Homo sapiens: one gene and its partners. The protein of the gene in region 3 purifies or fractionates together with the protein of the main gene of each other region. This does not show direct contact. Each region holds a gene or a part of one and is shown on either strand. Other genes may lie near its edges. The genes, in order: OCLN, DNAJC16, DUOXA2 and LRRC8E.

Region 1 (7,023 bases), on a different chromosome or scaffold from region 3:
CTCGCGTGAGTGCACCTGCGTGCAGATGTCTGCTGGTGTTTATTATGGCTGTGCTCTGTGATTACAGTGCACTGGCAAAGGGCTGTAGTGTACTGAACAATGATGCCTGTTTTTATTAGGGTTCCTGAAGTGGTTCAGGAGCTTCCATTAACTTCGCCTGTGGATGACTTCAGGCAGCCTCGTTACAGCAGCGGTGGTAACTTTGAGACACCTTCAAAAAGAGCACCTGCAAAGGGAAGAGCAGGAAGGTCAAAGAGAACAGAGCAAGATCACTATGAGACAGACTACACAACTGGCGGCGAGTCCTGTGATGAGCTGGAGGAGGACTGGATCAGGTACCGACTCAGCTCTCCTTTCCTGGCCCACGTGCTCCTTCTGATAATTAAAGGAGACCAACCAGGTGTTGGAGTTATTGCCTCCCAAATTGAGGTCACTGGTGTAATTTCATTCTTTGCCAACCAGGACTGGAGACAGTTTTTTGTGTGGTGTTGGCTGGTTTTTTCCTTAGCACCCTTTTGTGACAAAGTTTGAAGTGGAGAGAATGTTTGGCAGTAACCATGTCTTTGAACTTTGGCAGTAACCACTTTGAACTTTCCACAGTGTGGCTGGTGAACTTCACCAGTGCTCTTTCTTATACCAATAGTCACGGAAGAAAGATGTCCTAGCACTTTGGGAGGCTAAGGCTAAGAGTTCAAGACCAGCCAGGCATAGTGGTGTGGGCCTGTAGTTCCAGCTACTCGGGAGGCTGAGGCTGAGGCAGGAGGATTGCTTAAGCCCAGGAGTTCAAGGCTGCAGTGAGCTATAATTGCATCATTGCACCCCAGGCTGGGTGATAGAGCTAGACCCTATCTCAAAAAACAACCAAAGGCCTTTCAAATAAATAAAATCCAGGTATAGAAGAACTTTGTTTTACTAATTATAAAATTCCCAAACCAGTGCTATGGTTTTCCTTTGGCATTACTTTTTTTTTTTGAGACGGAGTCTTGCTCTGTCGCCCAGGCTGGAGTGCAATGGCACGATCTCGGCTCGGTGCAACCTCTGCCTTCCGGGTTCAAGCAATTCCTGCCTCAGCCTACCAAGTAGCTGGGATTACAGGCGCCCACCACCATGCCCGGCTAATTATTGTATTTTTAGTAGAGACGGGTTTCACCATGTTGGCCAGGCTGATCTTGAAAATCCTGACCTCAGATGATCTCCCTGCCTCGGCCTCCCAAAGTGCTGGGATTACAGGAGTGAGCCACCGCGCCTGGCCGGCAATTATTTTTTAAATTAAGCTTAAAATGATAAGACGAGAGTTTCTTTTAAAGTTTAATCCAAAGAGTTCCGTAAACAATTGAGGTAACAATTTAGTGTTCAGCCACAGTTGTGGTTAAGTTTCTTTGTGTTTTGGTGGTTTTGTTACAATCCATCCACCATCACCAAATGTATTTGTGTATGATGTGTAGCCTTCCTATGCCCAAGTATTCTGAGGACTAAGACGCACATCAGAAACATTTGCAATGTGAATGGTAATCAAAACATCGCTTCTCAGAGAGTGAGGAATGATAGGCGGGGCATGGGTAGCTTGAGATCCCCTATTCACTGATGATTCTGATACTTTATCTTCCCCTCTCCCCTCAAGAGTTTTTGGCCTGGCTTAGCCATCTATCTGTAAAATATTCACCTAACTTGTATCACGGAAGATTTAACTGAAAACTTTATATATTTTTTTGAGATAGAGTCTCACTCTGTTGCCCAGGCTGGAGTGCAGTGGCACGATCTTGGCTCACTGCAACCTCCGCCTCCCAGGTTCAAGCAATCCTCCTGCCTCAGCCTCCCGAAGAGCTGGGATTACAGGCATGCGCCACCACACCCGGCTAATTTTTGTAGTTTTAATAGAGACAGGGTTTCACCATGTTGGCTGGGCTGGTCTCAAACTCCTGACCTCAGGTGATCCACCCACCTCGGCCTCCCAAAGTGCTGGGATTACAGGGGTGAGCTACCATGCCCAGCCTGAAAATTTTCAAAATCTGAAATTCTTGTTTCCCTTTTGATCAAATCATTTAAATTTCTCCCCTCTGTAAAATGAAGATGTTAGATTGTTAGATCTAAAATTTGAAATTCCACATCATTGTGAAACTCCAGTCCTGTGAAAGGATTCAGAGTATTTTCTCTATGGATTATGGGTTAATGGCATCGTCTTCCTATGTAAGGAGTGGCTGGTATATTGAGAAATAGATGTGATACAAAATTTCAGTTTTTCTTCTTTATACTTTAATGAATTGCCAGATTATTTTAACAGTGAGCACATGTTTTTATACATGTACATTTTTAATGTCTATTTTTATTGTGAAAGAAGTAGATAAGCTATTTCCACTTCGGAAAAACAAGAGCAAAAAAATAAATAAACCAGTCTGAAAACTATGGGTGGTAGCAGGAAACAGCCACTTCCAGTCAGCTGTGCTGCCACTGTGGTGATCAAAGCGGACTTTGTGTTCCAGAATTCCAGTTTTAAGACTTTAAACAGGCCAGGCATGGTGGCTCACTCCTGTAATCCCAGCACTTTGGGAGGCTGAGGCAGGTGGATCACCTGAGGTCAGGAGTTTGAGACTAGCCTGGCCAACATGGTGAAACCCTGTCTCTACTAAAATACAAAAATTAGCCGGGCGTGGTGGCAGGCACCTGTAATCCCAGCTACTGTGGAGACTGAGGCACGAAAATCGCTTGAACCCGGGAGGTGGAGGTTGCAGTGAGCCGAGATTGTGCCACTGCACTCCATCCTGGGTGACAGAGCAGGCTTTGTCTCAAAAAAAAAAAAAAAAGAAAAGAAAAACTTTATAAACATAAGTAGTCCATTATTGATATTGTGTATGGGAAATAAGTGAGTTCCTATGACTTGTACCTTCAATTTTGTAAATGATTTTCAAAATTATTTCTGCAAATTACGTAGGCATAGTTTTTATTTTTTAAAAAATGAGCAGTAATATATAGTCACTCTTAATAGAACTTATTTGTATTCTCTCTCTCTTTCCCCATAAGAAACAAAAACGAAACAAGAAAATGTCATTCTCCATACCCAACCAGCTTTATTATCTTTGAGGAAGGAGCATTGAATTTTATGTCTGCTAAGGATACATATGTAGTCATTTTCTCTCTCACCTTTTAGGGAATATCCACCTATCACTTCAGATCAACAAAGACAACTGTACAAGAGGAATTTTGACACTGGCCTACAGGAATACAAGAGCTTACAATCAGAACTTGATGAGATCAATAAAGAACTCTCCCGTTTGGATAAAGAATTGGATGACTATAGAGAAGAAAGTGAAGAGTACATGGTAAATTCAACCTGATATTTATATATTAAACAGAATTTGAATCTAATCTGTGGAGGTACAGCATCCTTTATATTAATGTTGATAAAAATGTGCTAGTAGTTATCAAACTGCAGTTTCATTGAAGAATAGTTGAGATTGGGTTTTGGATGAAATTCTTTCCTAATAGAAGATTGTACTAATGTATAATAGTTAATAATTACAAAGCACTATTCTGTTTTTTTTTTTTTTTTGAGGTGGAGTCTCGTTCTGTTGCCCAGGCTGGAGTGCAGTGGCGTGATCTCAGCTCACTGCAAGCTCTGCCTCCCGGGTTCACGCCATTCTCCTGACTCAGCCTCCCAAGTAGCTGGGATTACAGGTGCCTGCCACCACGCCCGGCTAATTTTTTGTATTTTTTTTTTTTAGTAGAGACGGGGTTTCACCATGTTAGCCAGGATGGTCTCGATCTCCTGACCTCGTGATCTGCCCGTCTTAGCCTCCCAAAGTGCTGGGATTACAGGCGTGAGCCACCGCGCCCAGCCCCTACAAAGCACTATTCTATGTACATCTATCCTTTCCTATTTAAAATAAAATAGCCAGGCTGGGCATGGTGGCTCATGGCTATAATCCCCACACTTTGGGAGGCCAAGGCAAGTGGATCACCTGAGGTCAGGAGTTAGAGAATAGCGTGCCTAACATGGTGAAACCCCATCTCTACTAAAAATACAAAAAATAGCAGGGCATGGTGGCAGACACCTGTAATCCCAGCTACTCGGGGAGGCTGAGACAGGAGAATTGCTTGAACCTGGGATGGGGGAGGTTGCAGTGAGCCAAGATTGCGCCATTGCACTCCAGCCTGGGCGACAGAGTGAGACTCCATCTCAAAAATTAATAATAATAATAATAAAATAGCCTTATTATCTTTCCTATTTATAAAGCCATTCATTCTTTCTGTAGAAAAGAACTTAAGCGGCCGGGCACGGTGGCTAATGCCTGTAATCCCAGCACTTTGGGAGGCCGAGGTGGGCGGATCATGAGGTCAGGAGATCGAGACCATCCTGGCTAACACAGTGAAACCCCGTCTCTACTAAAAAAAAAAAAAAAATACAAAAAATTAGCCAGGTATGGTGGCGGGTACTTGTAGTCTCAGCTACTTGGGAGGCTGAGGCAGGAGAATGGTGTGAACCCAGGAGGCGGAGCTTGCAGTGAGCCAAGATCGCGCCACTGCACTCCAGCCTGAGTGACAGAGTGAGACTCCATCTCAAAAAAAAAAAAAAAAAAAAAAAGAACTTAAGTAACACAGAACTGTATACAGAAAAAGAAATCATCTTAAATCCTACCATCAAGAAATCCTTATCACCAAAATATTAGTTAAAACAATCTCTCCAAGCAGGAGTCACCAAGGCACATACACCTTTCTTTAAGGAAACATCATCTTCCATGTTTCACTTATTTTCTTCCTGTCTTTTAAATCAACAGTTTATGGGTTTTTTTTTTCCCTCCCTTGATCACCTGGCTGAGATAGAATTTGTCCATGTAAAGTTACTGGATTTTTTTTTCAATCCATCCTTTTCATACTGTATTTTGTATACATACTGAAATTAATGTAGTTACACCACCTTTTAGAGGGAGATTAATCTCTTCTTGTTTATTTGTTCCTTTATTGATCAGTCAATCACTTACGTAAGTATGGACTTTACAGATACCTGTTTTATACTGTGAATTATAATCCAAGGCTGCTTTATTTTGTAGCTCTAATTGTTCTCGCTTTGACGGTTGGGAACTTTCAGTTGCTTCCCGTGTCCCTTTGACATACTCTTATTGTGGGGTTTTATCTTTAAAAAAAAAACAAACAAAAAAACTTCCTTGCACTGCTTATTTCTGGCTTTTCTTAACAGCAAGTTTTTTTTTTTATATCAATAATAAAGACCTACTTACTTTTAAGTTTTTTATGTGTAAAATTAGGTAAACAACTTTCAAATTTATGGTTGTATCATAATTTAAGAGTCATTTTCTATGGATAGACATTTAAGTATGTCTCCCCCTACTCCAGTAGTACCAGTATATACTGGTGAACCTCTCTGTTTTTGCACTCTTGTCTACTTATCTAATTTTTTTTTTTTTTTTTTTTTGAGACGGAGTCTTGCTCTGTCGCCCAGGCTGGAGTGCAGTGGCGCTATCTTGGCTCACTGCAACCTTCGCCTCCTAGGTTCAAGTGATTCTCCCGCCTCAGCCTCCCGAGTAGCTGGGATTACAGGCATGTGGCACCACACCTGACTAATTTTTGTATTTTTAGTAGAGACGGGGTTTTGCCATGTTGGTCAGGCTAGCCTCGAACTCCTGACCTCAGGTGATCTGCCTGCCTTGGCCTCCCAAAGTGCTGGAATTACGTGTGTGAGCCACAGTGCCCAGCCTGCTTATCTAACTAAAACTAATTCCAGAATGTGAAATTGCTGAGAGTCAGAGGGTACGTACCTTTGCAAAGTTGCAAAATTGCCCTCCAGAGAGACTGCACCAACTGTGTCTCCCTCTTGATACAATACAGGACTCATTTGATGCACATCTCATTAAATATTCTGCCATTTTTCAGTTGAGGTGATCTACTTTTTAGTTTTGACGTATTCACATCTTTATATAGTTAGATTTATGTATTTCTTTTATGGTTTCTATAGGGTGTTATAGATCTTTCTTAATTTAGTGAACATTTATTGATCACTTATTTTTCTTTGATGATGTGGAAATGCTGGAGCTAGAGACATAAAATCTTGTCCCCACCCTAAAAGAGCTTATATTTTAAGAAAAAAAACCTGACATCTAAACAATTTAGACAGTATGATTAATGCTGTATTTGCATCATGTGTAGAAAGCACTATAACTAACTGCTCATAGAAGAAATAAAGTCTTTGGAGGCTTCACAGTGAGGGAATCGTTAAGAGCTTTCCAGACAGAAGGGTGCGGGGAGGTGCATGATTACAGCCATAAGGAAAACATGATTGAAATCCTGAAGCATTTAACATGTCTCAGTTTTTAAAGGAGTTGCTGATGATGGGTACTGAGACTGGAAAGGTAGGAAACTGGATGAGGGGAGAAGTTAATGGGAAGCTCAGACCAGTTGTGTAGTGGGATATTACCTGATCAGCGAGCGCTCTGTGTTATAAAAGATCTTCCTGGTGTCAATGTAGCATGGGGACTGGCATGAGGAGAGATGAGAAGTAGCAGAACAGATAGTTACCTGCCTATGTGAGTGAAATGTGAAAGATACAGTATCATAAATGTCTCTTCACTGAATTCCTTCAGACCTTCCTGCTGATCATGAGTTTTAAGAGCTTTACGACTTCATTCTTTTAATTGCTTATATTTTTGTCATAAGCTGTCATTTTTAGCTCCAAAGTATAACATCAGGAATGTTACTTTTAAAAGAGAAAATGCCCCAGTAAACATATTCCTTTGTGTCTGTCGTTAATAGGCTGCTGCTGATGAATACAATAGACTGAAGCAAGTGAAGGGAGTAAGTATCCGAGATTGTTCTTTTAGGAAGAACTTTCTTTCTTCTTCTTTTTATTTTAATTCCCATACCTACTCATCTGGAGGAAGAGCTTTTCTATTACATGTTTTTCATTTTTTATTTTATATATTTTTTAAAAGTTGAAGTATACATACAGAAAAGTGTATAAATCAAAGTGTATAACATGGTGAATTTTCACAATGTGACCACATACCTGCGTATGCA
Region 2 (7,023 bases), on a different chromosome or scaffold from region 3:
TTTTTATTTTTTTTTGAGACAGAGTCTCACTCTGTCACTCAGACTGGAATGCAGTGGCACGATCTCAGCTCACTGCAACCTCTGCCTCCCAGGTTCAAGCGATTCTCCTGTCTCAGCCTCCCGAGAAGCTGAGATTACAGGCACCCACCACCATGCCCAGCTAATTTTTGTATGTTTAGTAGAGACAGTGTTTCACCATGTTGGTAAGGCTGGTCTCGAACTCCTGACCTCAGGTGATCCACCCACCTCAGCCTCCCAAAGTGCTGGGATTACAGGCGTGTGCCACCATGCCCGGCCACTTCCCTTTTTTTATATTGGCTGACTGACCCTTTCCCACTGGCTAGGAAAGGATCACCCATGGCTGCCATTCTGGGCAGCAGAGCCTGGGACTGTCTCTTCATCAGGGAACCTCTGGTGCCCAGCACAGGGCCTGACACACGTGGAGTCCAGTGTATAGATGTAAAAGGAATGAGTGAATTAACCTCAAGAGGGATACCCACTCCCACCTACTGATGAGACCATGAGCCCCTGAAGGACAGAACCACATCTCATTCGTGTTTGTGATTCCTGGCACCCAACACAGCACCTGACAAATGACAGCCTTTGATGGGTGTTGGTAGGTACATAAAATTTCAGAACACCAGTCCTAGATGAAATCTTGAAAGATCAATTTTATCTCCCTACTCCACCCCTCTGGGCTACATCTGAATTTTTCTGGCCAGAAAAAAATCAGTAAAGTTGAGGAAATAATTCCACAATGTCAGAAAATTCTTCCATGTTTACACCTTAAGTCCTTTATTATCCCTTTTATTGTTTCCTCATGCAGAACTTATTGAGCATAGCCTATTATACTGAGATACAAAATCAAACTTTTAGAATAAGCTGTCTGTGAATTAGAACACTGAGCAATCTCTACCTTCCCCTCCACCACCTCCACCCGCCAAGAAAAGCTCTGTTTGCCTGAAATTAGTAAGCGTTTATTGGTGTGAAGAGTTTTTGGTTTGGGATTTTTATTTTATCTTTTTTTAGCTGGAGAGAAGAAATTTTAACTTGAGCTAATAGTTTGTTAATTTGGTTTTAGGAGGGAAATGATGCCCCTGCTGTCCCTGATCTTCTCTGCCCTCTTCATCCTCTTCGGCACTGTCATCGTTCAGGCTTTCAGGTAAATGTCCTGTGGCTTCTCGGTGCACCACCATGGTTGGTGTTGACACTTTTTTTGTAAAACTCCTTTTTTCTTACTTTAGCGACTCTAATGATGAGCGAGAGTCAAGCCCTCCAGAAAAAGAGGAAGCCCAAGAGAAGACTGGGAAAACTGAGCCAAGCTTCACCAAAGAAAACAGCAGGTTTCTCTAACAAAACACCAGACTCACCTCCCCGGCACCTGCCCCCCAGATCCTGTCATCTGATAACGCAGCATTGGAACATAGAGTGTAGAGAAGAACTCTCATGCACCTCCTCCCATGTAAACTGTGGCTACAGGGAAAAGTCACTGTGATTTGTGTTTACTAAGACCCTGTAGGTGTTTAGATGCCTTAGATTTCATAATGAAGGCAGAAGGAAAGAAGCCTATCAGGCAAGTGTTAGGTGAGCCAGAAGCAGGACGTGGTTTATCCCTGTAAATGTCAATGAACGTAACCAGTCTTGTGCGCACACACACCCAGCAGCAAGAGGCCAGGGTCTCCGAGACAAAGAACATAGACTGAATGATAGTTGTCTTCTTCATTCTGTCCTAGAGCAACTTCTGCACCTGAAAAGCAGCATCAAGCAGGGCACAGTGGCTCACGCCTGTAATCCCAAGACTTTTAGGAGGCCTAGGTGGGAGGATTGCTTGAGCCCAGGGTTTGAGACTAGCTTAGGCAACATGGCAAGACCCTGTCTCTACAAAAAACTTATAAAATTAGCTGGATGTGGTGGCAGGCACCTGTAGTCCCAGCTACTTGGGAGGCTGAGGTAGGAGGATCACTTGAGCCCAGGAGGTCGAGGCTGCAGTGAGCCATGATCATGTCGCTGCACTCAAGCCTGGAAAACAGAGCAAGAACCTATCTCAAAAAGAAAAAGAAAAGCAGCACAGAAAGGCTGTTTGTAGGTCAGGGATTACCAAGTCAGGCCATCCCCATCCTACCAATGTGTTAGACTCAAGAATAGTGAATAACATACCTAGTCTGGTTAGAACATAGCATTTTCTTTCAGCTGTTTCTTTTCAAAGTAACGGCTTTCCCCCTATCCTGACAGCATCTTAACTCCTCAATATTTCTCCACAGCAAGATTCCTAAAAAAGGCTTTGTGGAGGTAACTGAACTCACAGATGTAACATACACCAGTAACTTGGTACGTCTGAGGCCAGGCCACATGAATGTGGTCCTCATCCTGTCGAATTCTACCAAGACCAGCCTACTACAGAAATTTGCTTTGGAGGTCTACACATTTACTGGGTAAGCATGTGTGTGTGTGCATGTATGTATGTGTGTGAGAGAGAGAGAGGCAGGCACACTGAAATTGCACGCTTTTCTCTTTGGTCTTGTGGGGCTTCATCCATACAGCAAGATGCTGGCTGTGACCTTTCCAATCCAGACATCTGAGCCATTGCGACAGGGACCTCTTTTCCCACTTCACTTCGTGTTTTGTTGGTTCTGAACAGAAAAGCTTGAACTCAGTGTTATTCCCTGAGCCCTTTCAGTTACTGTTCTCTAGCCCTTGTGTATTTTCCAGAAGAGCAATGTTAAGTTCCACCGAGCAAGCGATGGGGGAATGGGTGATTGAAGTGTCGCAGCTGCTGGAGAGGCACTGGCTCCCACAGAAGGCCTTCTTTTTCTCTGTGTTCAGGCCCCATCCAACACAAAGCGTTTTCCTATTATTTTAAGTCTCACTGGGGTATTTATTTTCTCAGCAATTAAATGTGTCAGGAAATGCCCTGAGTCCTCAATTCTCTTCTTCCTACAGGAGCAGCTGCCTACACTTCTCCTTCCTGAGTCTAGATAAACACAGAGAATGGCTAGAATACTTACTAGAATTTGCTCAAGATGCAGCTCCAATCCCAAACCAATATGATAAGCATTTCATGGAGCGTGACTACACTGGTTATGTACTGGCTCTGAATGGCCACAAGAAATACTTCTGCCTCTTCAAGCCCCAAAAGACAGTCGAAGAGGAGGAAGCCATAGGGTCGTGCAGTGATGTTGACTCTTCCCTCTACCTGGGTGAATCTCGAGGGAAACCTTCCTGTGGCCTTGGATCCAGGCCCATCAAAGGAAAGTTGAGCAAGCTCTCTTTATGGATGGAACGCCTGCTGGAGGGCTCCTTACAGAGGTTTTATATCCCATCATGGCCTGAACTAGACTGAGAGGATTTTCCAAAGAGATTTGAACTCTTCAGACTTTTTAACATGCCCCTGTGAACAGGTATTTTCAGGACTCAAACTACCACAATGAACAGAGTATAGATTTTAGATTGCTCTTCTAGAACCATGGCTAGAAGAATCTTTCCTTTGTCCTGTTCTAACCTAGGAATGAAAAACACCACCAGTTTGAATCGCCTAGATGAAAATCTTTTCCTCTGGGTGTTATTTTTCCCCACTGAATGCCACACCATTGAAAATAGACTGCTCATCCCCTCTTCCTTTCTTGTCCTTGTCCCATGCTCACCCCACCCTCCTGTCCTGTGTCTTGGAGAAGCACAGGGCTCCACCCTGCAAGCGGCATCTGGCGGACCCTCATGAGCCTGTCGTGCAGGCCAGGTCATTGGCCCCTTCCCCAATCCCGGCCCTGCTGTGCTGCTGCCATGGCGCATGCTCCTAACTCTGAACAACCCACGGCAGCTTCTAGCCCCGCATCTGGAAAAAGGCCCCTTTCCAAGCAATCTCACGTTTACTGGTTGTTCTGGGAGTAAGTGGCTAAATGTATATTTTGGGGGTATCCCCCAACAACAGTTTGTTGGCCACAGGTTGAAAAGGAAAGGAATAAACGGGAGTTCTGCATGTGAGTTCTCAAGAAAAGGAAAGGGAGGCTGAGCAGTGGCTGAAGCGATGCAGCCTTGAGACACGCTGTGAGCATCCCATCCGCCGCCCCAGCGCTGCTGGTAGCCAGGGGAGGGGTCTGCACAGCGAGAAGTACTGTGATGACTTTGAGCCGTTGACATGTATGTCTTCAGATGCCTTTCTGCCTCTGTCGATTTTAGGGTATGGATATTAGGAGCCATAACTTGTAATCTTGTTCTCTGAACGTAGAGATAAGCTGCTATAAAGCCAGTAGATGTTAAACTGAAGAGAAATTATTCCCACCTGCTATGAGTCAGGCTTAAGGAATCTCTTCAATAGTGTCTCTTTAGTAAAATACCAAACATGTCTTTGTATCAAGGAACTTAAAATTTCTCAACAATTGTATTTTGAACACTGTTACCCTAAAAGTGCTGTCTCTTCAAGTCATCTTTTGCAGGAAGTGAGCCAAGATTTGTTCTAGACTCCCATTTTGCAAAAGGCTTACTTTCCACTTCTGGGCTGTATTTTGATGTCTCATCTTCATTGTTTTCACTCTTAACTTAGAGCTGCTTCACCAGTATTGGGGTCAGACTGGCCATCAGCACCTGAGCGTGCTGAGCTCCAGGTATAGTGGACCCCAGGGTGCCTCATACCAGCCAGTTAGAGAGCATACCTTTTATTTTTCAGGGCAGAATGACCAGTGGTTCTGAGTTTGAGTTTGGACAGCTTCAAAGAGTGGTCCGTTCAAATGTCAAAGCAAGGTGCCTTTGGTGGCTTTGTGAAGGGTGAAAATCAGTGATGGGACATTTACTAAGTATTTCTTTTTTTTTTTTTTTTTTTAGTTGTTGAGACAGAGTTTCACTCTTGTTGCCCAGGCTGGAGTGAAATGGTGCGATCTCGGTTCACCGCAACCTCCACATCCCAGGTTCAAGTGATTCTCCTGCCTCAGCCTCCTGAGTAGCTAGGATTACAGGCATGTGCCACCATGTAATTAGCCCGGCTAATTTTGTATTTTTAGTAGAGACGGGATTTCTCCATGTTGATCAGGCTGGTCATGAACTCCTGACCTCAGGTGATCTGCCTGCCTCAGCCTCCCAAAGTGCTGCTGGGATTACAGGCGTGAGCCACCACTCCCGGCTAAGTTAGTATTTCTTTAATCTTAATGCTTTAAACTAAGCCACTTGGATCCTGAATAATTTAAATCTTGAGCTACATTGGTAAGTAATAAATTATTTAAGGCCAGGAATTCCTGTAGTTTTCATGGAGTCTGTAGCTTTATTAAAAAATAAATCACTGCCAGGCTTCATTCTTCCATATGATCCTCTAAAAATGGACACTTCCTCTGAATGCTGTATCTCATGGCACCTGGTCCAACTAGAAATGGTCAAGGAATTCATTTGGCTCCTTGATACATCAGTCCTCAATATTACTTTCTAGGTATTTTATGGCCAGATTGCTTATATGAGTGGTCTTTTGGTTTGGTAGTAGGTTTTTATTTTTAATTTCTGTACTAATGAAATTCCTGACTTTAATTTCTGAAAACCAAAAACTCTCCAAGTGTATTTATTTATATTTTTTTTAATAGAGACGAGGTCTTGCTATGTTGCCCAGGCTGGTCCCAAACTCCTGGCCTCAAGCAGTCCTTCCACCTTGGCCTCCCAAAGTGCTGGGATTATCAATATGAGCCACCATGCCAGATTTGTTCATTTTTAAACATTTTTATCTCTTCAAGTCATCTTTTGATCTTTTAAAAAGCACCTTCAAACAGCTGCACCTTCCATTTGCACTAGGAAATGAAGGTAGTGATGGGATTGGCAATGTTCCTGGCAGATGTTTCAGCCCAAAAGCTCTTCTACAGACCGGTTTAGAGCTGGTGCCCTATGAGAATATTAGGGAGCTTTTATTTTAAATTGAACTTTACCCTTGTCCATGCAAGGCATTCCTCCTGAATGCATCCATGAATTTGTTTACTTTTGCGTCAAACATATGAGCCATTGTCATGCTCAGCCTGTGCCACCATTGCTCTGTCTGATGTATGTAATCATACAAGACCTGATTTTGGTTCTAACACAGTGGTCTTTGACTATCAACATTGATGTTTTTAGAGATGGGTTCTTCTGGTTGATACAGACTATGCATTGCGTTTAGCAGATGGGGTAAAACTGGCCTAAAACAAGTCTTTGCAGAATACATGCCAATTTCCAAAAAAAAAAAAAAATTTGTTGCTCAGGTGTTGCACAATTTTTATCTAACACTGAGGCTATCAGCTCCAACTAAACAACATTTCAGTGGGTGAGGCTGCCCTAACTTCCATTAGGGGCCATGGTCTCACTGCCATCACTTATTAGCCATGAGAATTTGGTTGTAGTTTTCAGGTAGGTTGGTTTCTTCCTCATTTGCAGCTTGTTGATACTTGTTCCTTTTTATTTATTAACATCCCAATCAATTTGCAGCTGCCATCATTACATAAATATTTTTCTGTTATAAAAAGAAGTGTGATCTGTTTTTTTAGTGATTTCCTTTGTTTGGGAATAGAGATTGGAAGCACATACTCAGACCTGTTTTGTTAACTAGAATTCTTTAAAAGCTGATGCCAAACATCTTTACAGAGGAACTGTAGTTCACATCCACCTGTCTGACATTGTCCCCTAAAAACAAGTGCAGTGTGGCAGCTGCTGAATCTGTCTGTTCAGTTTGTCAAGGAGGATAATTATGCTTGGGAGAGATCTGAAAAGAAGGTGAATATTTTGCACTTTTGATACTCTTAGGAACAAATAACTTATTTGGCAAATTGTTTCTTTTTTATGTTTTGGGTGTTGTTTTTGTTTTTTGACTTTTTTTGTATTGTGAACAGGCACTGAAGCTGATGTTATTTTAAGATTACAGAATGGAAAAAGAAATAAACTATTTTAATGTCTGATAATTATGGGGTAGCCCTTGCATTGCAAGATGATGATTTGATTATGGACACATTATCAACAGAATTGAATTTGCATGGAACTCAAGACACGCTTAAGATCACCACAGCATAACTGCAGATTTCAGGAATT
Region 3 (7,343 bases):
TGAGGGAATTTGGAGAAGAATCAAAGATGGGGTTGAGTGGGCTGAGGGACTCAGTGGGGGTTCACTAGGATTGAGCAGTGGCCCAGGAACTTCCTTGAACACGGCAGAGATTTGGTGATGTGCGTTTACTGAAGATAGAGTGCGCTCCTAGTCCAGGTAGGGTGGGGAGAGGAGGGAAGGGAATGACCCAGCTGCTAGACAAATCCTACACCCAGCCACCAAATTTCAGCCCTTAGGAGAGCTGGAGAGATTTCCCTACTAAGCCTACACATCTTACCCCAGGGTTCTGTTTCAGGGCCCCAAATTTTTGCTTCCCCTTCTCTAGTGAAACTGCGAAGGAGTGTGAAAGGCCCCAGCCCCCAAGGCAGCTCATTCTGCACCTTTCTTAGTGTGGTGCCCCTCTCTGCCAACCCCTCCCTCACCTCATGTAGACACCAGGGGGCACCATGGTAGAGAAGAACTGCTCAGAGGCCACCACAAATTCCGGGGAGATGCTGGGGTCTAGGAAAGGACGGTATCCTGCAGGAAGGAGACGGTGATGATGGGGAGACAGGCTTCTTGCCTCCACATCCTCCCATCACAGGCACCTGTCTCCTTCCCCTCAGGATTCTCCGCACAGGTGTCCTCCTTCCCCGCTCCCTCACCTGTATACTCCGGGAGTGTTTTCTGCAGGAAGCTGGGCAGCCACTCATACACAGCGATGTTCTGAGGGGCAGAGAGGGGCGAGGGGAGGCACAAGTTGGATGGTGTGGGGCCTGGAAGGGTCTGAGCCCAAGGACGGCTTCCGTGTGGAGATGAGACCAGGAAGGGTCAATCATGGGAGAAGCAACTCAGACAGGAGCAGTGTGAGGCCTGTCCCCACAAGGAACCAGGGGATTTGAGGGAGTGGGGGTTGGGGAGGTGATAAATAATCATCACCAGCCAGATTTCTCCTATAAACAGCGCGTGCCTCCCTATCATTTACAGGGGCTTCCCTAGACCTCGGCTGTCTGGGGAGGGGTTTCTGGGTGGCGGTTGTCCACAGATGGGGAGCTCCATGGGGCAGCGGAGTCTCCCGTGGGCTTGCACGCGGAAGGGAGGACGTCGCGGGGCGCGGACGGCTGACCTGGTAGGTGGCGATGACCCTCTTGCGTGCGTGCTGGAACAGCTCCTCGTCCTCCCAGTCTGGGTGCTGGCGGGCCAGCCTCTGCGCCCACAGGTTGTGGTAGCGGAACCAGAGCAGGCCCAGCGCCTGCAGGAAGGGTTCCCGGTTCCCTCTCTCTGCCCCGAAGGCTGCATCCGACGTGGGGGCGCAGGGGAGGAGACGAGCGGTAGCGTGATCGGGGGAGCCCACACTCGCAGACCCCCAGCCGGCCCCGTCCCGCCCCTGTGGCCTCACCGTACAGCCCCCGGGGCCCGTTCTGCCCGGTGGCGGGGTCGGGCGCCGCCCACATGAGCAGGGGGTTCTGCGAGTCTCGGGGGAAAGCGGGGTCGGGCCCCGACGCCAGCTGTCCCCCCGAGAAGCTCCGCAGCGCGTCGCTCCAGGAGTGCGAGGAGCCATAGATGGCGCTGCCGTCCAGCCAGCCCGTCACCTGGTTGGCCTGCGGGGCACGCGGCGGGTGAGCCCGGGTCGAGAGGCGGCGGCGGGCCAGGGAAGGCCGGGGCCCGGCGGGTGTCCGCGGCTGGGGAGTGGGCGCCTCTCCCCTCCAGGCCCTGCCAGGCCCGAAGCCCAGGCCCCACCTGGCTGGGGTGCGGTCCCTTCCCGCCGCCTTCCCCGCCTCACCAGGTCCCGGGGGTTGCTGGGACTCCGTCCGGTCTCGGGGTCCCAGCGGCTCCTCTGGAAGGGCAGCACCACGTCCCCGCGCTGGTCGGGGTCGAACACGGGGTCTCCAGGTGGGATGCGGATGTTGAGGAACTCGGCGGGGCAACCGGGCGTTTCCACGCTCACCACGTCGGAAAGAACATGGTAGCCTGCGGGCATGGGGCGCCAATACGTGACAAACCGTCCGTATTGCGCCCTCCCCACGGCCAGGGCGGCCTCCAAGTGTCCTCAGGAGCCAAAAGACAGAGGTCCCAGTGCCAGCTCCGCCACCAGCTCTGCACGTTAGCCCCAGGTAGCCTCAATTTTCTAATCTGCAAAGTAAGACTATAGTGAGTTCCCTTCCTACTCAATTCATAAAGCTGTTGTGAGAATCAAAATGATATAATTTATGTAGGGGTACCCCAAGTCAGTCCTCCTCCCTCTGGGCTAGGGGGAGGTAAAATGGTTACAAACACACGGTGAGGAGAGCGGTGGCTGGGGAGCTCAGTTCCCAAGAGCTATAATGGGGGTCCAGTGACACCCCTAGGTTGGAATAAGGCGTAAGAGAAAGGTTAGATACAGAGCAAATATCTCTGTATCAACATCCCAAAATCTCTCCGAGATGAAGGCAGTCTCGAAGTGCTGCGTAGAGAGGAAGTGGTTGGGAGTCGGATGGGTCTCCTGTGGACTCGCAGACGGGATCTGGCCCCTCCCCCAGGCTGAGCAGAGCGCCAGATCAACCCCACTGGTCTCCCCCTTTGCCCTCACCAAAGAAGACCCCCAGTACGGTGCGGTTGTGGAGCGACGGCAGGCCGGCTATGCCCCGCGTGGCTGCGTTGCTGAGCCGGCGCGGGTTGGGCAGCTGCGGCTCCTCCAGAGCCTGATACACACCGTCGGCGTAATTGGCTGGTACGCGGCGCTGCAACCGGCAGCCTGCGGAGGCAGGGAGCGGGGCTCTGTCTAAGCACTCCATCCCCTAGGATCCCCCAAACCTCTCCCTAAGCCTCCCTCAACCCCCATCCCACTTCACTGACAGAACCTTCCCTCAAGGGTCTCTTGGCCCCGGGAGCGCATAAGATTGCGCTGTGTAGGCAGCGGAGCTGCTGGGCGCGTGTTCCCCGCAGATTCCCCGCTCAGGGCCTTTCGCGCCCCGGCCCTTCGCGAGCCACGGCCCCAGCACGCCCGGGCCCCCAGAACGCACCAACAGCACCACGCTCGTGGTGCCTCAGGTTGTTAAACCAGCCGTCATAGCGCTGCACTTCCCAGGGCAGTGAGAGTGCGTCCTGACTGCCTGTGGGCACAGAGAAGGGCCTCCTCAGCACTACGCTCCCAGCTACCCCTCCCGAGCAACGAAGGCCTTGGCCAGTCCTTCCCCAGCTCGCGGAGCGCCCCTAACCGGACCCAAGTGTCGGGCCGCACTGGGAAGTTTCCCATCCCGCTGAGCTGCACGGCGAAATGACCTTCCAGTCTCAGGGAGCCGCTTGCCGCACCTCTCCCCGCCCCACCTCCCAGGGATCCTGGGGAACACCCCGCCGCTAGAGGAGCCTGATACTTGCCCGATGGACCCAGGGATCCAGTCAGAAGAGCTCCCAGGAGCATCAGTGCCTCTGGTCTTGCACGGAGCATGCCAACCCTGCAGCCTGCGGGGTGAGGGTGGGGGTGGTAGGTGGTATGCGAAAGCCACTGTTAGGGCGTCCTCTATGCCTCCCCTCTTGTTCCTACAGCTAGTACTGGAGGAGGAGCACCAGCTGTTTCCACTTCTGGAAGGTAGCTGTTAGAAGCATCACCGAGGACCTTCATCCAAACGCCACTCTTTCCAGGACAATTGGCAGCTCTGGAGGCATTGACACTGTTCCCCATCCGCCACCCCATCAGAGAGTTAACCCCCGACCATAGGAACCCACTGGGCAGGAGTCTTCTGGGGCATGTCAGTCCAGGGCAGGACTGGTCAAGCCTCCCAGGGTGTGCCCAATGTCTCCAATGTTTCACCTCCACCCGCCCCCGATCCGTCAGGCTCCGCTTCTCCTCCAGGAGGCAGGGAAGGGAAAAAGGTTACTGACCTGGGAGTGAGGGACTGCAGCACCCTTCCACAATGAATCCCCCCTTCCCCAATAAACTCCCCTTCTGCAATGAACGCCTGTGCATGATGGGCGAGGGCTAGGGTCAGATCCCAAACTCTGGTCTAACCTGTGGTTTAGGGTGGTGTTGGGTTCAGATGTCTTCTTTCCTCTTAAAATCTTTGCTTCTGTGCTCTACTTCTTGCCTTCACCCTCACTCTTCCAGCTCCGCCGATCCTCAGCCTCCCCGGCTGCACTCTCACCTTTCTCTCTGGGTCCTTGGTCTCGCCACTGTGCAGGTGTCGGCTCAGGACAGACCTGCGCCAGTGTGAGCATCTGGACCTAGGGCTCACCCTCCTGCCGTGGAGGTGGGGCCCTTATTTGCACAACCTCTTCCAGCTCAGACCAGCCCCTGGGCTGGGACACCCGTGTGGCACGTCGCCCACGCTGCTATAAAAGGGGTCCCGCGCGACTTCCAAACTCAGCGCCAACCCGCAGAACCAGGAAAGTAACGGCTACAGACAGTGAGAAATAGTTTCGCTCGCCGGCTAGAAAAACTCTGTCGGTACCAACCCCAGAGCGTTGAGAGCAGCCCACCTCCACGCTTCCTTAACGGAGAGGTGCAGGACTCAGACTTCACCAGCCCACTCGGTCCCAGCCTTGTACGCAAAGAGACGCCAAGGACGCGCTCTCCCGCGTCCAGGCAGCCCCAGCTTGCTGGCTTGCCTGCCCGCCTGCGTGCAGCACTCGGCCGGCGTGCAGCATGACCCTGTGGAACGGCGTACTGCCTTTTTACCCCCAGCCCCGGCATGCCGCAGGCTTCAGCGTTCCACTGCTCATCGTTATTCTAGTGTTTTTGGCTCTAGCAGCAAGCTTCCTGCTCATCTTGCCGGGGATCCGTGGCCACTCGGTAAGGGTGTCCTCATAGTGCAGGTAGAGTGGGGGAAGGCTCATGGGCAGATTGTCTCCTGAGGGACCCAGGACAGGTAAGACTGTACAAGAGCCTCCATGAATAGTCGAATTGAGGCTCAGGTGGAGTGAAGTCAGGAGTCTGGTGCAGCAAGCACCCCTTTCCAAGGATAGGGAGAGCTCCCCATCCAGGATATCCTGGAGAAGGACCCCAGCTGGGTCCTTGGGAAGGCTGCTGCAGAGAATGGGCACCCAGTCCAGTAATCCTGAGGAACAGTCTAGGCTTCTTGTGCTGGAGGGCCTCCCACCTCTCCCAGGACTAAAGCTGCACTCTCATCCCATCCGGTGGGTGATGACCTTCAGGCCAAAAGGACAGATGCCAGCAGCTCAGACTGCAGTGTTCCCCTTTGCACTGGGTTGAGACACATGTGTATGGGTGCCTCATCCTCAGGACTGAGACTCCCACATTGGATTAGAAGTTGGAGCCAACTGGGTGCATTGTCTTAGACTTTCCCCCTCTCCCAGAACCTAGGTTGTGCATTTTTCAGTTCTGGGAGGACCCAGCTTTTCTGCATCTTAATCTGTGTTGCTTTCCCTGGAACTGGTGCACCTAGGAGTATCTGCATTCCCACCTCCTCCCCTCGGAGATCAGGCTGGGGCCTCCCTCTTCTGAGGGAGGTGACCCCTGCGTGCCTAGCACTTCTGGACTCACTGAGCCTCACCAAGCAGTGACTGGACCAGGAGGCAGAACCAGGACCAGGCGCCAGACAGCTAGGGGAGTGAAGGTGGTGGAAGAGTGCCAGGAAGTGGGGGTGGAGGGGAGGTGCTGTTAGGGTAGATGGGAAATGGGGCTAGGGAGGTGAAAGTGCGTGGTCACAAAATATCAGAAATGCCAGTAGCCCAGAGGGACTTGCAGGAAAAGCGTGCCTAACATTAGTCTCAAAAGTCTGGATATAACTAAAGATCCAGGTGAAGTGGGGTCAAGGGTGGTCTTGGGGACTCTGGTTTGGCAGGGCTCAGGCCTGACCCGGGTGCCTATTCCTGCAGCGCTGGTTTTGGTTGGTGAGAGTTCTTCTCAGTCTGTTCATAGGCGCAGAAATTGTGGGTGAGTGTGTGGTGCAGCCCATGGGGAGAGGACGGGGTGAGGAAGGAGGTGGGCAGAGGGCACCTGGGACAATAGGGAACTGGGGTTGGTTTTCTGCTCCCTCTTCCCACTCTCCAGCTCCTTCTAGGGCCCACTTTTTGGCCCTTACCATGCAACCACATTGGACCTCTAAGTCCCCATCTCTCTGCAGTGTCCCACCTCCCATACCACTCTCTAATTCCATTTTCCCACCCTCATCCCACCCCCACCGTGTGCCTTTCCCTACAGCTGTGCACTTCAGTGCAGAATGGTTCGTGGGTACAGTGAACACCAACACATCCTACAAAGCCTTCAGCGCAGCGCGCGTTACAGCCCGTGTCCGTCTGCTCGTGGGCCTGGAGGGCATTAATATTACACTCACAGGTGAGGGGGCTGGGGCTAAATGAACTCCTGGAGCTGGGAGATCCCCGGTTAGGTGAGTGTGTCAGGGATAGCTGGAGGGCCTCTCACATCCCACAAGCTCAAATAGCTTGTGGTCCTCGTGGATTTGCGTTTTCTCCAACCACCACCGAACCCATTTCTCCCGCCGAGAGCGCCACACCCCCACTTTCCTGTCTGAATCCGCTTAGTTGCGAGGTCTCCGACCGCGGGCAGCCCCATGAGCCCGCCTCACCCCACAGGGACCCCAGTGCATCAGCTGAACGAGACCATTGACTACAACGAGCAGTTCACCTGGCGTCTGAAAGAGAATTACGCCGCGGAGTACGCGAACGCACTGGAGAAGGGGCTGCCGGACCCAGTGCTCTACCTGGCGGAGAAGTTCACACCGAGTAGCCCTTGCGGCCTGTACCACCAGTACCACCTGGCGGGACACTACGCCTCGGCCACGCTATGGTAAGTGCTGGAGGGAAGGCTGTGTGCACGTGTGTGTGTGCCAGGAGCTGGGCCGTATGAGCGGGAGGATGCAGGCCTCGGAGGCGCTGAGCAGCTGCAGCCAGACCCGACGCGCTCGGGGTGGGCATGACAGCCTCGCGGGTTAGAAGATCCACGAGATCTGCACAGACGGAATCCGGAGAGACTCCAGCCACCGCCTGGACCTCAGGAGCCCGCTTCTCCCCCGGGGAATTCCCCTGCACCGCTGCCATCCCAGTCCCTGGCTTTGACGCTGGGGTAGGGATAAAGAAGAGCGCAGCTGTGGGAACCCCGGTGGGCTGGGAGAAGCCCGCTCACAGCGGGTCCCCCCACTCCCCGGCAGGGTGGCGTTCTGCTTCTGGCTCCTCTCCAACGTGCTGCTCTCCACGCCGGCCCCGCTCTACGGAGGCCTGGCACTGCTGACCACCGGAGCCTTCGCGCTCTTCGGGGTCTTCGCCTTGGCCTCCATCTCTAGCGTGCCGCTCTGCCCGCTCCGCCTAGGCTCCTCCGCGCTCACCACTCAGTACGGCGCCGCCTTCTGGGTCACGCTGGCAACCGGTGAGGACCGAGAGAATGGGCCCCGGGGGCTAAGGGTGGAGAC
Region 4 (7,023 bases), on a different chromosome or scaffold from region 3:
GACAGGAAGTTGGTCCCTGCTCGGGTGTGTGTGTGTGTGTGTGTGTTTGTGTGTGTGTGTGTGTGTTGTGTGATTTCTTCTGCAGCCTCCAGAGTCAGGAGTTTTTGTTTTGTTTTGTTTTTTTGAGACGGAGTCTCGCTCTGTCGCCCAGGCTGGAGTGCAGTGGCGAGATCTTGGCTCACTGCAGCTTCTGTCTCCCGAGTTTAAGCAATTCTCCTGCCTCACTCTCCTGAGTAGCTGGGATTACAGGCATCCACCACCATGCCTGGCTAATTGTTTTTGTATTTTTAGTAGAGACGAGGTTTCACCATGTTGGCCAGGCTGGTCTGGAACTCCTGACCTCAAATTATCCGCCTACCTTGGCCTCCCAAAGTGCTGGGATTACAGGCGAGAGCCACCGCGCCCGGCCCCAGTCAGTAGTGTTTTGCTTGCTGTGTTTGAGATAGGGTCTTGCCCAGGCTGGTTCATGGCTCACTGCAGCCTCTAACTCCTGGGTTCAAGCAATCCTCCCACCTCAGTCTTCCAAGTAGCTGGGACTACAGGCATGCACCACCACACCTGGCAAGATTTTAGATTTTTTTTTTTTTTTTGAGACGGAGTCTCGCTCTGTCGCCCAGGCTGGAGTACAGTTGTGCAATCTTGGCTCACTGCAGGCTCTGCCTCCCAGGTTCACGCCATTCTCCTGCCTCAGCCTCCCAAGTAGCTGGGACTACAGGCGTCTGCCACTATGCCCGGCTAATTTTTTGTATTTTTAGTAGAGACGGGGTTTCGCCGCATTAGCCAGGATGGTCTCAATCTCCTGACCTCGTGATCCACCCACCTCGGCCTCCCAAAGTGCTGGGATTACAGGCGTGAGCCACCGCACCCGGCCCAAATTTTTAGATTTTTTTGTAGAAATGGGGTCTGACTATGTTGTCCTGGCTGCTCAAACTCCTGGGCTCAAGCAATCCTCCTGCCTCAGCCTCCCAAAGTGCTGGAATTACAGGCCTGAGCCACTGCACCCAGCCTGGGGTCAGCATTCTTAGGTAAAGCAACTGAGCAGTGTCCCTGCAGGATCCTTGGAGGACTCAATGGATGGCCGGAACCAAAACAGGACGTGAGGGTCCCTGGTGCTGGGTCCCTCCGAAGCTCAGTGTGTGTACTTGGACTTTATACCCTCGTGCACAAATATGCATGACCCAAAATGACCCCAAGCGTCCATTTTGGTGGGTGCAATGTACATATTCTTCCCCTGGGGACAGTTGAGCTATCCTGGTATGTTTCTACCAGATTACATACTGGTGACCCAGGCAGACTGGGATATTTGTAGTCGGGTTTCTTTTCTCTTCTCTTCTCTTTTTTAGAGACAGGGTCTTGCTCTGTCGCCCAGGCTGGAATGCAGTAGTGCAATCTTGGCTGACTGCAACCTCCGCCTCCCGGGTTCAAGGGGTTTTCGTGCCTCAGCCTCCCGAGTAACCGGGACTACAGGCACCCTCCACCATGACTGGCTGTTTTGTATTTTTATTTTTATTTTGTTTTAGTTTTGAGACAGAGTCTTGCACTATTGTCTGGGCTAGAGTGCAGTGGCGCAATCTCAGCTCACTGCAACCTCTGCCTCCCAGGTTCAAGCGATCCTCCTGCCTCAGCCTCCCTAGTAGCTGGGATTACAGGCACCTGCCACCACGCCCAGCTAATTTTTTGTATTTTTAGTAGAGACGGGGTTTCATCACGTTGGCCAGGCTGGTCCCTAACTCCTGACCTTGTGATTTGCCTGCCTCGGCCTCCCAAAGTGCTGGGATTACAGGCGTGAGCCACCGCACCTGGCTAATTTTTGTATTTTTAATAGAGACGGAGTTTCACCATGTTGGCCAGGCTGGTCTCGAACTCCTAACCTCAAGTGATCTGCCCACCTCGGCCTCCCAAAGTATACTTGGCTTTTTGCTTAGGGCAGGGAGTGTGAATGAGCATGAGGGCCAGGCCATGGTGCGAAGGACCCTGTGCTCTGGGCACCCCCTTGCATGGATCTGGGTCTGGGTGAGTCACTGCCTGAGTCAGGGAACCCATGACTTTTTTTTTTTTTTTTCCCGAGACAGAGTCTCGCTCCGTCTCCCAGGCTAGATTGCAGTGGCACGATCTCAGCTCACCACAACCTCCGCTTCCCGGGTTCAAGCGATTCTCCTGCCTAGCTGGGACTACAGGTTCATGCCACCATGCCCGGCTAATTTTTGTATTTTTAGAAGAGACGGGGTTTCACCATGCTGGCCAGGCTGGTTTCGAACTCCTGACCTTGTGATCCGCCTGCCTTGGCCTCCCAAAGTGCTGGGATTACAGACGTGAGCCACTGCGCCTGGCCCAACCTATGACATTTTACACTTGCATGGTGAGTCCCCGTGTGGGCAGGCTGTACCCACACCCTTGCCTGCCTATCTGATTCCCCAGACTGAAGTGGGGGCCTCTGAGGGGGTAAAAGGATGTGGTCTTTCGGGACTGCTTGGCCTTTAGCTTGGTGGGTGGAGCCTGTATCCTACCTTGTTTTAACCCAGGAGTCACCCCAAAATATGGGGGGGACACAAACTGAAAAGGGAGGCTCAGACATGTCAGAACCATTGGCTGAGTCGTGGGTCAGGGGACCAGGGTTTCCCTAGATTCTTCCTGGGGAGATGGATGGGGAGCCAGAGATAACTCCCTGATGGGCAGATGCCCTCCTTCTTGGCCCAACTCCTGTCCCGTTACAGATTATCTTTGTCTTTTGTTTTGTTTGTTTGAGATGGAGTCTCACTCTGTCACCCAGGCTGGAGTGCAGTGGCACGGTCTCACTTCACTGCCACCTCTGCCTCCCCGGATCAAGACCCTCCCACCTCAGCCTCCAGAGTAGCTAGGATTACAGGTGTGTGTCACCACACCTGGTTAATTTTTTGTGTATTTTTAGTAGACTCTGGGTTTCACCATGTTGGCCTCACTGGTCTCGAACTCCTAACCTCAAGTGATCCACCTGCCTCAGCTTCCCATAGTGCTGGGATTACAGGCATGAGCCACCGCGCCCAGCCCCAGTTACAGATTATCTATCTGGACAAGGACAGGAGGCTCCCAGGAGTGGGGGAACTTGGATGTTGGCAGAAGTGGGCTGGTCTAAGGTTCCCCACCTTCCTTGTTCCACCTCCAGCCTCTGGGGAAGTAGGTACCTGCCTGGGAGAGTGACATCTCAGCTCATGCCCCACGCCCCAGTGTGATTTGTGGCTGGCCTGTCTGTATCTGTAATAGTGATAGCTTGGTCTAAAAGGAGACCCTGGGAACAGACAGAGTGGGCCGGCCAGGAGCCTGACAGCACAGCCCTAGCCTGGTCGCAGATGTCACCTGACAACTTTCCATTTGCAAATCCTCCTTCCTCCTCGGACATCCGGACACCCCATTGCCCCCTCTCAGAGCCCAGGTCTCTGGTTTCTGCCTGTGATTCTGGGCTGTAGCCCCTTTAGAAACTCAGGTGTCCTGGTCACCTCCTACCCCCAGGGCTGACTAGCCTTCAGCTTGGCAGTCCCTGCCCCTGGGGCCCTAGTAACCAGAGCCAGGCTCCAGCCGGCTTTTCCGGTTAGAGGTTGGAGGTGGTGCCCAGAGTGCCCCTGGAGGGGGTGGAGGGGCCTACGCCCCGGAAGTCCTGAGCCTTGGAACGCTTTCAGGCCTGGTGGCGGTGGGAGCCGGGGCTGGCCCAGACGCTGAGTGTCTGCAGTCAGGGAGCATCGAGGCAGATGTTTTCAGGCCTTGGTGTCAGGGGTGGGAGAGGGATGCCTCGTTTTGGGGAGGGGGCCACCCGAGGAGGCTGGAGGGCGGCGGCCCTGTGGACTATCCCTCATGTGCTCTTCGAGGTCAGACAAGTCAGATCAGGTGCAGGGGTGCCCAGAGGGGAACAGTGGCCGCTTGGTTCTGGGCAGGTGGTGACGTCTGCATGGAGGGTGACTAAGGCCAGGCTAAGAGGGAAGTGGGGGCACACACTTTGGTGGTTTGGACAAGTTTGGGCAGGGAGGGTCACAGGCCTGCCTGTGTCCGGCTCCTCGGAGGACCCCCTGCAGAGCCTCCCATCCTGAGGGTCTCTCTCTACACCCCCCGTCTCGTCCCGTCCCACAGGCAGCATGATCCCAGTGGCCGAGTTCAAGCAGTTCACGGAACAGCAGCCTGCGTTCAAGGTGCTCAAACCCTGGTGGGACGTGCTGGCCGAGTACCTCACCGTGGCCATGCTCATGATTGGGGTCTTTGGCTGCACCCTCCAGGTGAGGCCCTCCCCTGGCAAGGGGGTGTGACCAGAGGGGCGGGGCAGGTGTCTGGGGAAGTCGGGAAGCCTTCTCATCACCCAAGAAAGAGAGGAAACTGAAGACAGAGCCCCACTCAAAGGCCAATCCAGACCCCTTATCTTCCTTACCTCCATAGCCAGGAGCACCGGAGTCCCCACATTGCTATGCCATTCCATATCTTTTTTTCTTTTTTGAGACGGAGTCTCACTCTGTCACCCAGGCTAGAGTACAGTGGCATGATCTCAGCTCCCTGCAACATCTGCCTCCCGGGTACAAGCGGTTCTCCTGCCTCAGCCTCCTGAGTAGCTGGGATTACAGGCGCCCACCACCACGCCTGGCTAATTTTGGTAGTTTTTTAGTAGAGATGGGGTTTCACCATGTTAGCCAGGCTGGTCTCGAACTCCTGACCTCAAGTGACCTGCCTGCCTGGGCCTCCCAAAGTGTTGGGATTACAGGCCTGAGGCACTGCACCTGACCCTTTCTTTTTTTTTCTTTTTTTTTTTTTTCTTTTTGGCTAAAAAGAGACAGGGGCCGGGCATGGTGGCTCACACCTGTAATCCCAGCACTTTGGGAGGCCAAGGTGGGAGTATCACTTAAGGCCAGAAGTTTGAGACCAGCCTGGCCAACACGGTGAAAACCCGTCCTTACTAAAGACACAAATATTAGCCAGGCATGGTGGTGGACACCTGTAATCCCAGCTACTTGGAAGGCTGAGGCAGGAAAATTGCTTGAACCTGGGAGGTGGAGGTTGCAGTGAGCCGAGATCATGCCACTGCACTCCAGCCTGGGTGACAGAACGAGACTCCATCTTAAAAAAAATAAAATAAAATAATTGAAAATTAAAATAAAGAAACACGGTCTCATTCTGTCATCCAGGTTGGAGTGCAGTGGCATGATCACAGCTCACTGCAGCCTTGAACTCCTGGACTCAAGTGATCTTCCCGCCTCAGCCTCCAGAGTAGCTGGGATTACAGGCACACACCACCACGTCCAGCTAATTTTTAAATTTCTTGTTGACACAGGGGTCTTGCTATGTTGCCCAGGCTTGTCTCGGACTCCGGGCCTCAAGCCATCCTCCCACCTCGGCCTCCCAAAGTGCTGGGATTACAGGTGTGAGCCACTGTGTCCAGCCCCATATTTTCACAATGCTCAGTTTTATCCCTAGAATCTGGAAAGGACTGCAGTTGCTATATGAGTTTGTTACTTCTGTTGTAACAAAGTAGCAGGGATTGAGTGGCTTAAATAACCAGAAATGTTTCCTCTTCTGGGTCTGGTTCTGGAGGCCAGAAGTCTGAGATCAAGGCGTCAGTTGTCAGTGAGGGAGAATCTTCCAAGCTTCCCTCCTAGATTTTTGCAGCTCCAAGAGTTCCTTGGCTTGTAGATGACATTCTCCCAGTATTTTTCTTTTTCTTTTTCTTTTTTTTTTAGACAGAGTCTCCCTCTGTCGCCCAGGCTGGCATGCAGTGGTGCGATCTCGGCTCACTGCAACCTCCGCCTCCCGGGTTCCAACAATTCTCCTGGCTTAGCCTCCCAAGTAGCTGGGATTACAGGCGTGTGCCACCACGCCCGGCTAATATTTTTTTGTATTTTTAGTAGAGACGTGGTTTCAGTATGTTGGCCAGGCTGGTCTTGAACTCCTGACCTCGTGATCAGGATCAGCCTGCCTCTGTCTCCCAAAGTGCTGGGATTACAGGCATGAGCCACTGCGCCTGGTCGAGACAGTTTTTTTTTTTTTTTTTTAAGCAAGCTCTGTCACCTAGGCTGGAGTGCAGTGGCGCAATAATAGCTCACTGTAACCTTGTACTCCTGGCCTCAAGCAATCCTCCTCTACCACCCCCGCTTGGCCCCCCCTCCCACTGCCTCCCAAATCACTGGGATTACAAGCCTGAGCCACCGCACCCAGCCTCTCCCTGTATCCTCACGTCATCTTCTGTCTTTGTGTCTGTCTCTGTGTCTATGTTTCCCCTTTCTCTAAGGCGCAGTCATACTGGGCCCACCCTACTGGCTTTGTCTTGACTACCTCTGCAAAGACCCTATTACCAAACAGGAGCCGCCTGACCCAGCTCAAATAATACCACATTCTAAGGATTCGGAGTTGGGACTTCAACATCTTTTGTGGGGACACGATTCAACCCAGCTCCTTTTCTCAGACAAAGACCAGTGCTTTGTCAGTTGTGGTGGCTCATTCCTGTAATCCCAGCACTTTGGGAAGCTGAGGCAGGGGATCACTTGAGGCCAGGAGTTCGAGAGCAGCCTGGCCAACATGGTGAAACCCCATCTCTACTAAAAATACAAAAATTAGCTAGGCGTGGTAGTGCGTGCTTGTAGCCCCGGCTACTCAGCAGGCTGAGGCAGGAGAATTGCTTGAACCAGGAGGGGAAGGTTGCAATGAGCCAAGATTGCACCACTGCACACAGCCTGACAGAGCGAGACTCTTGTCTCAAAAAAAAAAACCAAAAAAAAAAAAAACAGTGCTTAGAGGTTTAGCAAAACTCTTCCAAAATCACAGCTGGCTGGCAACAGTCAGAGATGGGGGGTGCGGGGGGTCTCCCACCTTCAGCCTGCTTTTTCCCCATCCCCCTCATTTTCTCTCTTTTTTAAATTAATTTATTTTTGAGACAGAGGCTCACTCTGTCACCCAGGCTGGAGTACAATGGCGCGATCTCGGCTCACTGCAACCTCCATCTTCCGGGTTCAAGCGATTCTCCTGCCTCAGCCTCCCGAGTAGCTGGGATTACAGGTGCCCACCACCATGCCCGGC

What was found.
Region 1: the proteins of DUOXA2 (region 3) and OCLN purify together in Homo sapiens (co-immunoprecipitation; 2 studies listed by BioGRID and IntAct, with this or other methods). This does not show direct contact.
Region 2: the proteins of DUOXA2 (region 3) and DNAJC16 purify together in Homo sapiens (co-immunoprecipitation; 2 studies listed by BioGRID and IntAct, with this or other methods). This does not show direct contact.
Region 4: the proteins of DUOXA2 (region 3) and LRRC8E purify together in Homo sapiens (co-immunoprecipitation; 2 studies listed by BioGRID and IntAct, with this or other methods). This does not show direct contact.

Annotation. Positions count from the first base shown.
Region 1 is NC_000005.10:69,544,785-69,551,807, forward strand, and holds part of OCLN (occludin), read left to right. Parts: intron 1-119; coding exon 120-335; intron 336-3,145; coding exon 3,146-3,317; intron 3,318-6,759; coding exon 6,760-6,801; intron 6,802-7,023. UniProt on the Homo sapiens protein: May play a role in the formation and regulation of the tight junction (TJ) paracellular permeability barrier.
Region 2 is NC_000001.11:15,564,838-15,571,860, forward strand, and holds the end of DNAJC16 (dnaJ homolog subfamily C member 16 isoform 1 precursor), read left to right. Parts: intron 1-1,081; coding exon 1,082-1,162; intron 1,163-1,244; coding exon 1,245-1,343; exon of another isoform or gene 1,344-1,573; intron 1,574-2,261; coding exon 2,262-2,432; intron 2,433-2,940; coding exon 2,941-3,340; 3' UTR 3,341-6,896; downstream 6,897-7,023. UniProt on the Homo sapiens protein: Plays an important role in regulating the size of autophagosomes during the formation process.
Region 3 is NC_000015.10:45,110,006-45,117,348, forward strand, and holds the start of DUOXA2 (dual oxidase maturation factor 2), read left to right. Parts: upstream 1-4,320; 5' UTR 4,321-4,600; coding exon 4,601-4,747; intron 4,748-5,793; coding exon 5,794-5,851; intron 5,852-6,118; coding exon 6,119-6,253; intron 6,254-6,459; coding exon of another isoform or gene 6,460-6,510; coding exon 6,511-6,724; intron 6,725-7,085; coding exon 7,086-7,300; intron 7,301-7,343. Other genes in the region: DUOX2 (dual oxidase 2 isoform 2 precursor), read right to left, coding at 423-519, 645-705, 1,106-1,272, 1,379-1,580, 1,763-1,950, 2,549-2,713, 2,982-3,071, 3,337-3,406. UniProt on the Homo sapiens protein: Required for the maturation and the transport from the endoplasmic reticulum to the plasma membrane of functional DUOX2. May play a role in thyroid hormone synthesis.
Region 4 is NC_000019.10:7,891,501-7,898,523, forward strand, and holds part of LRRC8E (volume-regulated anion channel subunit LRRC8E), read left to right. Parts: intron 1-2,072; exon of another isoform or gene 2,073-2,359; intron 2,360-3,019; exon of another isoform or gene 3,020-3,839; intron 3,840-4,098; 5' UTR 4,099-4,103; coding exon 4,104-4,241; intron 4,242-7,023. UniProt on the Homo sapiens protein: Non-essential component of the volume-regulated anion channel (VRAC, also named VSOAC channel), an anion channel required to maintain a constant cell volume in response to extracellular or intracellular osmotic changes.